Linked DNA regions of Homo sapiens. The protein of the gene in region 1 purifies or fractionates together with the protein of each later gene. This does not show direct contact. Each region holds a gene or a part of one and is shown on either strand. Other genes may lie near its edges.

Region 1 (4,472 bases):
ATTATGTGTGCTGTACTTTATACGACTGGCATTACAGTAGATTTGTTTATACTAGCATCACTACAAACATGAGTAATATGTTGCACTACGACATTGCAGTTACTGATGGCACTAGGTGATAGGAATTTTTTAGCTCCGTTATAATCTTATGGAGCCACTGTATATGTTGTCCTTAATTCACAGAAATGTCATTGTGCACGCATTACTGTATTTGCATATGATAAATATTGGAGCAAATAAGTGGTCTTATCAACTGAATTTTCAACTCACTGCAGTCTAGAAGAGTTGGGGTTGAATGTTTTGAAGTGGTATGAAAAATAGTACTTGTGTGAATGAGTTGTAAATGTCTTTTTCAATATATCAGTTAATCATATGTTTATCAAATACTTATGTTTATTCTGTAACTGCCATTATCTGACCTCATCTGTTTAAATATTTGACCTCATTGAAGTTTTCCTGTCCTAGACTCCTTAAAGTCAGATGTACGGTCTTTTGCAGTTAAGAAATCAATATAGCTTTCCCTTTTCCAGTATTTTTTCTTTAAGATAACTTACTTTCCCTATAAGGGAACACCATAAAACTATAAGTTGTTTTAATTACATGAAAGAGAAGAAAATCTAAATAATTTGTGTCAGGAAGCCATGGAAGTTCTCATTTGGGATTTCAGTGTTTCTAAGTAAACTTCTCCTTCTTTGTCACAGTATATGTTCTGTTTATTTAAACAGGGGCCTCAAATCTGACCCTATCGGAAACTCAAAATGGAGATGTATCTGAAGAAACAATGGGAAGTAGAAAGGTTAAAAAATCAAAACAAAAGCCCATGAATGTGGGCTTATCAGAAACTCAAAATGGAGGCATGTCTCAAGAAGCAGTGGGAAATATAAAAGTTACAAAGTCTCCCCAGAAATCCACTGTATTAACCAATGGAGAAGCAGCAATGCAGTCTTCCAATTCAGAATCAAAAAAGAAAAAGAAGAAAAAGAGAAAAATGGTGAATGATGCTGAGCCTGGTAGGTATTTATTATCTTTGAACTTCAGCCATTTAGTTTTTCACAGACGGTTATTGTTCCTCTTTCTATTACTATTGTGTGCACATGACATGAGAATTCCCTGTACTCACCAGTATGTTAGAGATTAGCCTGGTAGCTAATGGAAACATTTTATTGGCAGAAGCGGGGAGTCCATTTCAACTTTTCTCAAAATATTGAGGAATATATTTTTAATTTCACTAACCTTGAAGAAAACCTCTCTCAGAAAAGACTCTCCTTAGAATTCTAGAAATTTTCTCTTCTTTTTAAGTTACCTTTTTTCCTGCTTGATTCTTCCCATTTTCCTTCCATAAATTCCTCCCTTTGAAAGGAATATTAGTTACAAAGTATATAAAGTAGGAAACTTCTGAATAAATGGAACATTAATTTCCAAGTGCTAAGAATGGCAGGAGGAAAAGGAAGGAATGTTTTTTGAAGATGATGGAATTTCAGTAAGCTCGGATGAAAGAATGGACATTATAATTGAGATTTGTATAAGCAGAGATATCAAGGTAGGATAAGATAGGGGTCAGCAAACTATCCCTCCTTCTACCTGTTTTTGTAAATAAAGTTTTACTGGGTCATAGCAATGCCTATTTGGTTGTGTTTATGGCAACAGAGATCATATGACCTGCAAAGCCTAAACTATTTACTATCTGGCCCTTTGCGGAAAGTTTGCCAGCCCCTGAGTTGGAACATCCTATTCATGTATTTTACCTGAAATAAGGGTTTTATTTAGAAAGGGACTTTGAACTTTTCCAAACATGCATTACTGTCTTCATGATGCCTACACACAGAAGTCATTGTAATCCTGTTCTAAAATTATTGCCTTCACAATTCTTGTTTTGAGTATGCCCCAGGAAGTGGTATTATTTCTGCTCCCAAGCATTGAATCACAATGCTGGGCGTTTTAACCTTATGGGTTTTTTGTTTGTTTGTTTGTTTGTTTGTTTTATTATGAGATGGGGTCTCACTGTGTTGTCCAAGCTGGTCTTGAACTCCTGGGCTCAAGTGATCCTCCCACCTCGGCTTCCCAAAGTGCTGGGATTACAGGCAGAAGCCACCACACCCAACCACCTTATGGGTACATTTTAGGAACTATTCCAGGGAAAACAAAATAAGCCATGGAGACCAGCTGAAGATATCTGTGGCTTTTGAACATGTAGGTCCTACAAAGTTGACTCTTTCCTGGAAGGGTGGCCGTCAGGTACAGGGAGGAGACCAGTACTGAGCTACAGAGAGTCCTGGGTTGTGGTCTAAGTTCTTTTCAAACATCACTAATTGCCATATAGTTTTATATAAACACAGCATGTGGTTAATCCATTTGACCCAGAGTCGAACATTGAAAAGAGAAGTGAGAGGTAGGACTGAAAAGGTAGTTGGGGCCACATGAAAGTTGTGAATGTAGAAATGAGGGTGGGAAGAAGCCCTGCCTTTCCTCCCACCCTCATCCCTGATAGCCAAGGCACAGTCCAGTGTATGTCAGCCAGGCAAGTGGGTTGTTGCCCTTCCTTTACAGTCTATCTCTAGTAACATGAAGAGCCTTTGATAGTGATTGGCGTGGGAAGAAAAATGACTACTTATAATGAGTTTTTAAGGATTATGTTAATCAGGTATGCTTCCTTTCCCCTCAGTGGAGTATGTGAAACTTATAATTGGTATGTTTATACTGTTTAGTTGAACAAAAGCCTAAAAGGTTTTGTCACCAAGTCTGTCTGTACCCTGGGTTTTTAAATACAACCACTCATTTTTCACCAAACAGAATTCTTAACAAATTAATACAGCATATACTTAGCTTTTGAAAATATACGTCTTTATATCAGAGATCTTCTGTTTGTTGATCTCATTTGGAATTCTATTTTAAGGAAAAATTTTTTCGGATTTTGTCTTTTAAAACCAAAGATACGAAAAAAGCAAAAACTGAAAACAAAGGGAAATCTGAAGAAGAAAGTGCCGAGACTACTAAAGAAACAGAAAATAATGTGGAGAAGCCAGATAATGATGAAGATGAGAGTGAGGTGCCCAGTCTGCCCCTGGGACTGACAGGTAACGTCCAGGAAGTTTTCTAGAGGTAACTTCTTTAAAATGTGCCTCTCTTAGAGGATTATAGGTTTGAAGGTTCAGTTGTGACTTTCAGTTTACCTGAAAAAAGTAACTATCAACAAGAAACTTTTTTTATATCTTTCTGCTGCTTTTTCTCTTTATCTTCTATTTTGTGGTGTTTTAGTTCTTTTTGTTCCCTGTTTTTTTCCTTTTGTTCATTCCTGACACCAAATATTTTATATGCACACTAGCAGCTTCTAGGATTCCTTGGTTTGTCCTTTTCTGAGTCTCATTCTATGTTGTAATAGGAAAATGATTGGCCCTGTACGAGGTTAACCTCCTTTGGCCTTTGTTCCTTTATAAAGTTGAGTTTAGGCTAGAATTCACTGCTCCTAACCAGATATGTCTAGGAGTTACTTGAGTTGTTTATTTGGTTTGGGTTGGTTGGTTTGTTAAAATGTTGAGGCCCAACCCTAGACCTGCTTAATCCAAATTGCAAACGTTTTGGTAGTAGCTCTCGAGCAGGGAAATTCGCCCCCCGAGTAAGAAGAGTAACTCTTCCTGGTTTGCCCAGAACTTTAACAGTTTTAGCACTGAAAGTTCTGAATCCCAAGAATCTCCTCTGTCCCTAGCCTACTGAGAAGATTGGTCATCCTAAGCCTAGGAGACATTTTTGGTTCTCAGAGCTAGGAGCAGTCTGCTGGGATCTGGTGAGTAGAGGTCAGAAACACTGCATAATATCTTATAAGGCACAGGATAGTGTTTCACAGCAAAGAATTATTCAGCCCAGATGTCAGCAATGCCAAGGTCAAGAGTGATTGGTTTACACCCTGGGCATGTGGAGTATGGGGAACCCCCAGGTGATTTTGATGCCTTCTGCTGAACCACCACTGTATTACTTGATACGTAGGCTCAGCCTAACATTCTGTGGCTGTATCTGACTCTTCTGTGTCTTGTTGGAGTGAGATTAACAGGTTTTTTTTTTATTATTGACTTCACACTCAGTTTTTATTAATGCTCAATGTTTTCACTTTTATATCAGATTTCTTAAACATTTCATTTATCTCTGGACTCTCATTATTTTCCTTGTTTTGGTATTTTTATTTTATATAAATTCCTTGGTTATACCTCCTCTCTACCCCTTGTTTTGTTATAGTATGGTCTCTGGACTATAACTCACACAGCCGTTAACAGTGGAGAAACTTGAAAGATATAGGGTCTTTTTCTTGATATTATCACATATGAATAATTAAGGTTTAGCCTTTTCTTACTGCGGGAAGCTTTTCTAAGCAAAATAGATTTAGGCAACTGTAGCAATACTTTTTTAAAAAAAAAGATAAATTTGCTAATGATAAATTGTCTTCTGTTTAGGAGCTTTTGAGGATACTTCGTTTGCTTCTC
Region 2 (2,361 bases), about 110 Mb from region 1:
CTAGTTTGTAAACAAAGATCTCTAAAAGGAAGTGGACACTCTAAGTGATATCATCTTCTTAAGGTGGCTCTTGTGTAGGCTCTTTTAAAACATCCCAGTGGTTGTGTGAGTGTGTTGGTTGAAAAACCAGTCTCCTACTTTGTAGGAGGCTGGTCTGTCAGGGCCCTTCTCTTGCCTGGGGTTCAGAATTTCTGCTTTTGCATTGATGGTAAAAGTTGGCCTTGGTCCTGCTGTTTCTGCCAGGGTAGCATTTGTCAGAGCAGAGTCCAGGCAGCCCCACCATGTCCCCTGGAGCCTGTGGGCAGCATTTCTCCTGGCAGCAGTTCTGAGATTGGTGGTGGTACTGTTGGCAGCCTGACGGTTACCAGAAAAGAGGTATAGAATTTTCTCTCTTTCCCTCTACTCATTTCATTTTCTCTTTTAGTCTGAACAGCAGAAGAAGCAACAGGAGGCTGAGAAACTGCATCGACAAGAAAGGAAAAGACTCCGTCGTTCGGCCGGACACCTGAAGTCAAGACACAAAAGAGGACGGTCGTTTCATTGATTTGGGAAGTGGTCCTACCTGTGATTAGGGAGGGGTACGTCTCCCCCAAACTGATCATCGTTAGGGTGTTAAACACAGACGAGGAAACACACGTTTTTAAAGTTCATGTACGTTCTTGTACACAGAGGTAAAGATTTGAAAACCTGTGCCTTGTGGGTTGGACTTTGAAGCTGGCCCCGCCGACGGCCACCGCACAGCCCCAGGGGTGTGCTTGCGAGTCGTTGCTCCCTGGAAACATTGTCCTTTCCCCACGGCGTTAATCATGAAAACCAGGCTGGGGTTTTTTTAATATTGTGAAATGTACACCATGAAATGAAAGGTTTATCCTGTGCCAGAAACCAAGGTTTATCATGCTCTAGGAACTTTTTTCTTACACTGCCTACCGCCATTCATGATTAAACCATCCAGAAATACCATCCCTGTTTTACCTGGTGTCTGTGTATTGCCTGTGTTTGTGTTTATAAGTTTATGCTGATAGGTTTGTTCGGCTTGTTTATGTATTAGTTTGGGATTTGTTTTTAAATAATTTATACCAAGAGAGTATAATCTAATGGTGCAGGTTGAGAGCATCCCAAATCCGAAAATCTAAAACTGTTTGAGCACTGTATTTATCTGTTCTTGCACTGCTATAAAGAACTACCTGAAACTGGGTAATTTATAAGTAAAGAAAAGAGGTTTAATTGACTCACAGTTCTACAGGTGGTACAGGAAGCATGGCTGTGGAGGCCCTGGGAAGCTTACAATCGTGGCAGAAGGTGAAGCGGAAGCAGGTATGTCCTGCGTGGCTAGAGCCAGAGGAGGAGGGCAAAGGGGCAGATGCTGCACACTTTCAAACACCAGATCTCCAAGAACTCACTAACACAGAATAGCAAGGGGGAAGTCTGCCCCCATGTTTCAGTCACCTCCCTCCAGGCCCCTCCTCCAACACCGAAGATTACAATTTGACATGAGATTTGTGTGGGGACACAGAGCAAAACCATATCAAGCACTGACATGACATTGGAGGAAAATGCTCATTAGAGCTTTTCAGGTTTTGGATTTTCAGATTTGGGATACTTGACTAGTAAATATAATACAGATATTCCAAAACACACAAAAAAACCAAAGTCTAAAAGACTTCTGGTCCCAAGCATTTCAGATAAGGGATACCCAACCTGTAATAATGGGAAACAAGCAGTAGAGGCTGTTGGTTAATCTTGGCACAAGTTTAATTACAGGTTTTTTTTTTTTCCTGTTTCTTAAGTACAGTCAAACATAAACTTACTGGAGGAAACATTTATAAAAATAAATATACTTTCATTTGAATAGCTTCTTTGAGAAAGACTCCAAGAAAATTTTTTTTTCATTAGTCAAACGGTGGTGTGCACTTGTAGTCCCAGCTACTGAGGCTGAGGTGGGTTGCTTGAGCCTGAGAAGTCGAGGCCAGCCTGGACGACAGAGCAAGACCTGCGTCTCAAAAAAAGAAAGAAGAGAACCAACTTTGGTTTCCTTAGTTTTTCCAGCTTTGATGTGATTTTGGAGGTGCCTTTATAGATTTTTAAGGTTCTTTATATACAACTGAAATAGTAACTCTTTGGACTGTGAATGATACAGCCTAATTTCGAATAGCATAAGCCGAGAGGCAGAATGCATTAATTTACATCACCATGCTTGGGACATGGAACTGGCCTCAGGAACACCTAGATCCATGGCTCCACGGTCAGTCAGCTAGCACATGCGCACTCTATCTCTGTTTCCCTCTTTCTCTCTCTCTCCTTCCCCTACTCCCTCCCTTCCTCCTCCTGTCTCACCATTGTTCCTTCTCTCTTCAGGCCTCC
Region 3 (3,500 bases), on another chromosome or scaffold:
ACAAACCAATAAAAGATCATCAGTACAACATACCAGATTAGCTGAGTAACAGTGGTCACAACCATATATTCCAGATTTTCTCAGACAATGCCAGTTCTAAATACTTTTAGCCTGTTATCTTTAGAAATCCATAATCCTAATATATCTCAAACTATATCCAGGGCTGTCTCTTACACTTCAAAACAGCACAAAAAATTCTTTGCAATATTATACAGCCCAATTTAATAATTAGAATAAATTATGGAGTTCATTCCATTGAGGGTGTAGTTTAGTCACCCCATTCTTTTCTTCTAGTTGTAAGGCAAATAATATTGTATAATAGAGGAAATACCCATCAAACCCCCTTATAGATGGTGCTGATCTAGCGCTGTCTCAAATGCTGTTAGAATGGGACAGGCTGGTTCTAGAGAATGAAGGTGACATGCTTCCTCCCACCTCCATTCCAAGTGGAGTAATGCAGTTTGAGCAGAACAGACAAAATCCCTCCCCTTCTCGGCCATGGAAGAGATATTTTCCCCTCTGATTGTATCGGCAATGGGTGTTCTTCCCCAAGTTTAATCTAGTCCTCACACCAAAACAAAAAGAACAAAAGCCAAACACCAGAAAACACTTATTCTTTTTTTTAAAGATTCCTTATAAAACATTATCTACCCACTAATATTATGAAAAGGATCATATCTAGGCTGTGCATGAAGCCTCCAAAGTGTTTTGGAAAGTTTGTCAGAAAAGTACTAGTCATAGATAGAAACAGTCCTATACACAGGTGAAAATCAGACAGTATTAAAGCGGAACACGGAAACTGTACGTGGCTTTATACCTCGGGAGTCTTCTTACTCTGTCTTTTCCCAAAAATGCAGTCAAGATCTGTTTTGCTCCGAGATGACAGATCCTTCCCTAGAAAAACAATGTGATGCTTTTCAGTAAGACTGTTCTTCCTAAAAGAAAGAGCGCAGACATGAACTATGCAGCACCTCAAAGGAAAATGGCTTTTGGGAAAGAAAGAAACAATTTTGAAACTACTGACTTTCTACCCACTTTTTCATTACAACTCTTTCATTAGTAAACAAAATTAATTAAATTTTAAAACCAAGTAAATGTTTTAGAACCAGAACTCTTGACATTCTCTTAATTGTAGAAACAACCTAGAGCATACTGACTGCAAGGAAAGCTAAATTCTACAGCTCACCCTACTCCCGCTATGCCCTCAAGATGCAATTCCTGGGTCTCTGGGTTCTTCATTTAAAAATAGATCTCATTTGCTTCAGAGACATGAGCTACTTACTTAGAAGATTACGAAATACACATGAAAAAATATCACTAGATACACAGCTCCAGACCCCACATATGCACATGAATGAGAACGTATCATATTTGACACACAGGATCTTAATAATTAACTCAACAAATAAAAATTTTAAAAGAATATATGTAAATCAAAAATACTGTAAAAGGGTGACAGGGTTTCAGATTTTTCTTCTTAAAATGTTCTTTACTGCTCTAGCTATATTGTCTCTAAATAAAAAGCTACATAGGGAGAGTAGGAAATTAAATGGCTCTATGGTTCTTATTTAAAACACTAAACTCTTTAATTTCAAACCCCCAAACCAACTAATTTAAAATTCACTTCTTTGGAATTTCCACTTCTACCCAATAATCCTCTGTGAGCAGTAGGCCAAATCTAGTCCCATTTGTCAACGGCATGGTAAATGCATTTTAAAATGTAACTACTCCATGTAAAGGCTTGAGGCTCTGGGCGAGGGAGGTTCTGGGTCAGACACAGGAATGTGAGTCTCACGCTGGAAGCCGAGTTCCACCGTCACAGACTCACTTGTCTTCTTGGTTTCCTGTAGCACACTGCCTTGGCAAAGTAATGTCATGACCCAGAAGGTTCTAGTTCACTATCACTGGGGCACTTAAATATGATATTGCTCAGTGACTCCGTGAAATTAAAAAAACAAAACACTCTTCAATTTAATGCAAAACCAGGTGCCAAAACCAGTTTCCTAGGCAGCAGTACCAGATGAAGTGGCCCAGGCGGTATGACCTGTTCCTGCCAGGAGGGCAGGCTCCTCTGGGCTCTGGCTGCTGCTCTCCTTCCTACCTGAGCTTGACACTAAGCCCTCCTGCTTTTCATTTATGATTAAATAGGACCTACACAAAAAGACCCAAAAGAAAACCTACTTAAGAATAGACGATGCACACCACAGATACGGCAGAAAATGAACCGGGAAAGTGGGGAAGAAAACTGGTTGTAGCGGGAAGAGGTGGACAAACTCATCGGAGGTGTAGAGATGTCCTCACAGCTTTGCTGCCAGCACAACCCATTTTCCAATGCAAAGCACAGTTTGTACTTCAGAAAAGGCAGCTGTACTTAATTCAAAATGTGTACTGGCCATCTATCCCTAACCTATCCTCTGGAATAGAGACACTCTAGAAAATGCAAATTAAGGTCTCTTCTATAGCAATTTGACTAAAAGGAATGCTGGAGGGATTAAGGAAGAGAGGGTACATGCGAGATCACAGTTCTAAAACATGATGTCAAAATGTGAACACACAGATTCAAAACAGATCTGAAAGTCAAAGGGAAAACTGTCAAGCTGGTAGAGACAGTAAGCTATATCAATGAAGGTGCAAATGTGTCTAAAGTTTTGATGATGGATTCTTGTATCAGAAATTTTTAGCCTTTAGCAAAGTTCACTTAAGTAAATGTAGAAACCAGGATTGTTACAGGCCTTGCTCTGGATTTGATCTGGAAAACAAGAACACAGAGAAGAAAGAAGAGTCAGAGACCAGTGGAAAGGAACATAAAAGGTGGACAAAAAGGTGAAGATGGAAGTGACCTTGAGATAGTTACTAATTAATGGTCCTGATGGAAAGCTTATAAACACCAGGAAATTATGGCCGCTTTTGAATAAATACGACAAATTTAAAAAGCATTTAAAAAGCTTATTTGTTTGAGTTCTGAATTATGGTCAAATCATACAAAATACTGTTGATAAACTTAGAGAAAACGACAATGAAGAAAACTGAATAGGAAACATCTATCTGGATTTGGTTCATCTATTAGTCTTCAATGCGTAACATTTCCAGAACCAGTAAGAAAGGCCTCCAAGAGTCAAACTGAAAGTTCCTGCAAGGATGAGCAGGTACTTTCAAGGAAGAACACTCTATTTAGGTTTGCTTTAGCTGTTTGTCTAATAATCATGATTATCAGTTTCCCAGTCTATCAGAGTAGCTACTGGGAAGGGAGGAACATTACTGCTATAGTCAGACACATTTACAATACCAAGAAATACACATGGGAGGCAACTAAAACTTTCATTGACACGAGAACTTAGGAATCAAGATGATTTGGAAACAGTTTAGCAATAACCCAACAAGCTGTATTAGAACTGAGGCTCAAAAAACCAACTCTATGGAAAAGCAGAGTTGAGCTGCCGAGAGTAAAGAAGTGAAGGGCAAGGAATATGTTTGCTAAAATAAAAAAACACTTAAGGTTT
Region 4 (3,500 bases), on another chromosome or scaffold:
TTAAATTTTTGTTGGGGGGAATTCTATCTAGAAAAGGAAGACTCAGAATTACATAGATGAGAAATGAATGGAAACCTATAGGTGCAGCACCTAATCCTCCAAATGCATAAGAGAGAACATCTCTTGACACGCTACTACATAACAGGCACTGTGCTAGATAGACACTGCATACATTAATCCAATCTTTACACCCTGAACTATATATTATTGTATCTGATTTACATGCTAGCCTTACAAAGGTTAAGAAACTTACACAAGGAAACAAAACTAGTAGGACTCAAAACTGAACTCTGAACTCAGTTGTGATTCCAAAATTATGCTGTCTCTCATCTAACAACGAACACTGGTATTTCTTAAAATGTCCAGTGTAAATATAACTTTACTGGTTATTAAGGAGTATATTTGGGAATCCTAGTAAGGACCAAGATACGGCAGTCATGTCTCATGCAATCTACCCTGGTGTTCCTGGCATTTGTAGAGAAGGATATCATCACATTGAACCTTTTGGACTTTGAGCTTTTATATTTATAATATACTTAAGAGAACCCAGTGTTGCTGTACAAAGACAAATATTATTGTGTAGAAACAGTCTTGATGTTATGCTTGGTACTTCTCAGTATTTCAGGGCAACTGCTGAGTCTGGCTGCTGCACTGTTTTCAGAGCTGATGTCAATCTATTGTTTATGTCCTGTCCATGGGAGGGATACATTTTTACCTAAGATTGAAGTCTGGTTCTGCAAATGCAAAGAGGCAACTGTCTGGTAGCCTGAGGGTGAATCAACAGCTGCAAGGCCACCCACGCATAGGGACACAGCTCTCAGCTGTCTCTCCATTTAGAGCCCCAGTTGGTCCTGACCTCTTACAAATTTGGTGTTTTCACTTTGATGTTTATGAACCGATTGCATTAAAAATGCAGGATAATGATTCAGGGTTAGAGAAACTATTATTTATACAAATGTGGTTAACACCTCATCATTTTAAATTGGCTGTGCTAATAATGCTCATTGTGCTCTTCAGGGTTTTGTGTGTGTGTGTGTGTGTGTTTTGCCTGAATCTGCAACCTACATTTGCTCTGGCAGTATGTTGAGTATATGCTAGAATAGAATGGACCTAGGCAACTCTAAGGTCCTACAACTAAATACACTTACTTAGGAAACCTCCTAAATAAGTAGGCCTCTAGATATAAGTGAAAAACATGGGAATTCACTCCTTACATGGTGGTATCTGTTGCTCCGGCAGTTCTCAAAATGTCCTTTTGGTGCATCATAAACCCATTCTTTTAGAGAACAACAAAAATATTTAAGGTTTGGTGCATTAATTCTGAAAGCCTCAGATGATAAATAATGCTAAAAAACCAAATGCTATTTGTTATTAACTAAGTGGCTTAACATTTAAGGACAATGGTTACCCTACAATACAAGTTAATTATAAAGAAACATATCTTTTTAAAAATATAAATACTGAAAAAAAAGTCAACAATAATTCAATCAATAAAATTTCACCAGTATTTGTATATGCCTAAATTATATCAATAAAAGTTTATGGAAAAAGCTTAAGACAGATTTACAATTCCCAAATTCACTGTTGTTTCATTAGACTAGATAGATGCTCTGTAGCTTTATTCTCTTCATAGTTGGGATAGACCCACTAGCCACGTGTAACTTTTAAAATTTAAAGTAATTAAGTAAAATTAAAAATTTAGTTCCTCTGTATCACAAGCCACACGTGAAATGCTCAGTAGTCACCTCTGCGAGTGGCTACCATATTGAACAGCACAGACATAAATTATTTCCATCATCAAAAAAAGTCCTATTGACAGCAATGATTTAGACTTTTAGTCCCTATAATTTTAATATAAAGTATTATGCCCACTCTTCTAACATATATCCTTGCTTGCCTTACTCAGTTGAAAACCAAAGAGTGTTTAACAGAAAGCTGAATATGTGCTCCTCCCACTGAAGGAGAGGGCAAAAAGGAGGGAGAAGAAAGGTGAGCAATGTTGGAACAGGTATTTTAAGAAAGCAAATTTAAATTTAAAAGGTTTACCGCATCTCTAGGTAAAAAGTCCTAAATACTAACTCCCTGAAATTATGTTCAGTAGACTAGGTAAAAAATATTAATATTGCTCTCTAAGCTAGAAAACACTCTAAATTTAGAGAATCTAAAATTATTTAAGAACTGTTAGAATATATCTTCCATCTATATAATTATGATTATTCATTCTAACTTAGCATTTTATTAAAACATTAATCACAATTCTAAATGTCTTGTCAACCACCTCAAACATTCTACTTCTAAATCTATTCACAGATTCCCTTGACTAATATGTTTAATCAAATTTCAGAAAAGCTCGCCCACTGAAAAAATTTACCAGGACTACCAGTGCTGCAACAGTCAGTAAGATTCAAATACCCAGCTGGCCAAAATTCAGACTCCTGTTTTCTTGGGGAAGGAGTGAGAGAGCTTTTTATAGGCACGAAGTAGTTCTCTCTCCTGTTTCCAAAATTTGCTCTCACTGCCAATTCACCTCAAATAGTCTTCATACCCATAATATCTACAGGGCTTATAGCGTCTATACCATATCAGTGACATGCAGAGTGGAGATAAATGTCAATCACATTGATCCTAATAGATGAATTTGAGGGAAGAACAGAATGAATTCTGCTTTGGTCAACTGGAAAAAATGTTTCCAAATAAAAACAAAGTTAACATTATCAATAAAGTATTGACAAATTATAATATTCACAGCTCTACATAAACTTCATCAGTCAACTTTCCTTGAAGTTAAATTCCTTCAAGTTAGCACATTAATGGAGACATAGAAGGAAATGGGAGGAAAACATAAGAGGTTTCCCAGAATTTATACGTCCCTTTCTTCACCCATCTGTTTTAAAAGGCAAAAAATATTTTATTTTAAAGAAATTGGATTGCCTTCAAATAGACCTTTGAGAACCTCCTACTGAGTGACTTTAGGCTCTAAGTACTAGTGGTAACCCTCTGAACTGTTCTATCCAAAGGGTTTCCAAGGTATATTTTGCAATCAATTGAATAATGTTTGAGCAATGCAGAATTCTAGGTAATTTGAAAATAAATTCAGTGCTCCAACTCCATTATAAAAAGTGCTAAACTACTAAGATAATTCTATTTTCAGTCCTAATCAGGTATTATCATTGGCTTTCAAATTCTGATGCTTAAAAATAACAACCAATGCTAAACTATGATAAATACTAAGAACATCAACCCCAGCCATCCAAGTATCTAGAATATTCTATATATGAAATAAGGAAATAAGATAATTATTTCTATATATGAAATAAGGAAATAATACTTCCAAATTATTGGTTCCTATTTTCCATAGTTCTTTCTAACCGAAGATAAGTAACCTACTATATTATTCTAAGTAGTTACCAAAAATAAAATCCTAGGTGTTATGTTTAAATAAATGGGGAGGCAGGAATTGCAGTTTTCTTTCCCCTCGTTAAAAAATTCAAAGACAGGTG

Evidence for each region. Proteins that work in one complex are often made in the same cells at the same time.
Region 2: the proteins of DDX18 (region 1) and NOL10 fractionate together in Homo sapiens (co-fractionation; one large-scale study listed by BioGRID). This does not show direct contact.
Region 3: the proteins of DDX18 (region 1) and PINX1 purify together in Homo sapiens (co-immunoprecipitation; one large-scale study listed by IntAct). This does not show direct contact.
Region 4: the proteins of DDX18 (region 1) and RRP15 fractionate together in Homo sapiens (co-fractionation; one large-scale study listed by BioGRID). This does not show direct contact.

What each region holds. Positions count from the first base shown.
Region 1 is NC_000002.12:117,816,719-117,821,190, forward strand, and holds part of DDX18 (ATP-dependent RNA helicase DDX18), read left to right. Parts: intron 1-725; coding exon 726-1,010; intron 1,011-2,930; coding exon 2,931-3,074; intron 3,075-4,442; coding exon 4,443-4,472. UniProt on the Homo sapiens protein: ATP-dependent RNA helicase that plays a role in the regulation of R-loop homeostasis in both endogenous R-loop-prone regions and at sites of DNA damage.
Region 2 is NC_000002.12:10,570,254-10,572,614, reverse strand, and holds the end of NOL10 (nucleolar protein 10), read left to right. Parts: intron 1-424; coding exon 425-544; 3' UTR 545-1,861; downstream 1,862-2,361.
Region 3 is NC_000008.11:10,819,376-10,822,875, forward strand, and holds part of PINX1 (PIN2/TERF1-interacting telomerase inhibitor 1), read right to left. Parts: intron 895-3,500; coding exon 818-894; intron 1-817. UniProt on the Homo sapiens protein: Microtubule-binding protein essential for faithful chromosome segregation. Mediates TRF1 and TERT accumulation in nucleolus and enhances TRF1 binding to telomeres. Inhibits telomerase activity. May inhibit cell proliferation and act as tumor suppressor.
Region 4 is NC_000001.11:218,333,793-218,337,292, reverse strand, and holds part of RRP15 (RRP15-like protein), read right to left. Parts: 3' UTR 1-3,500.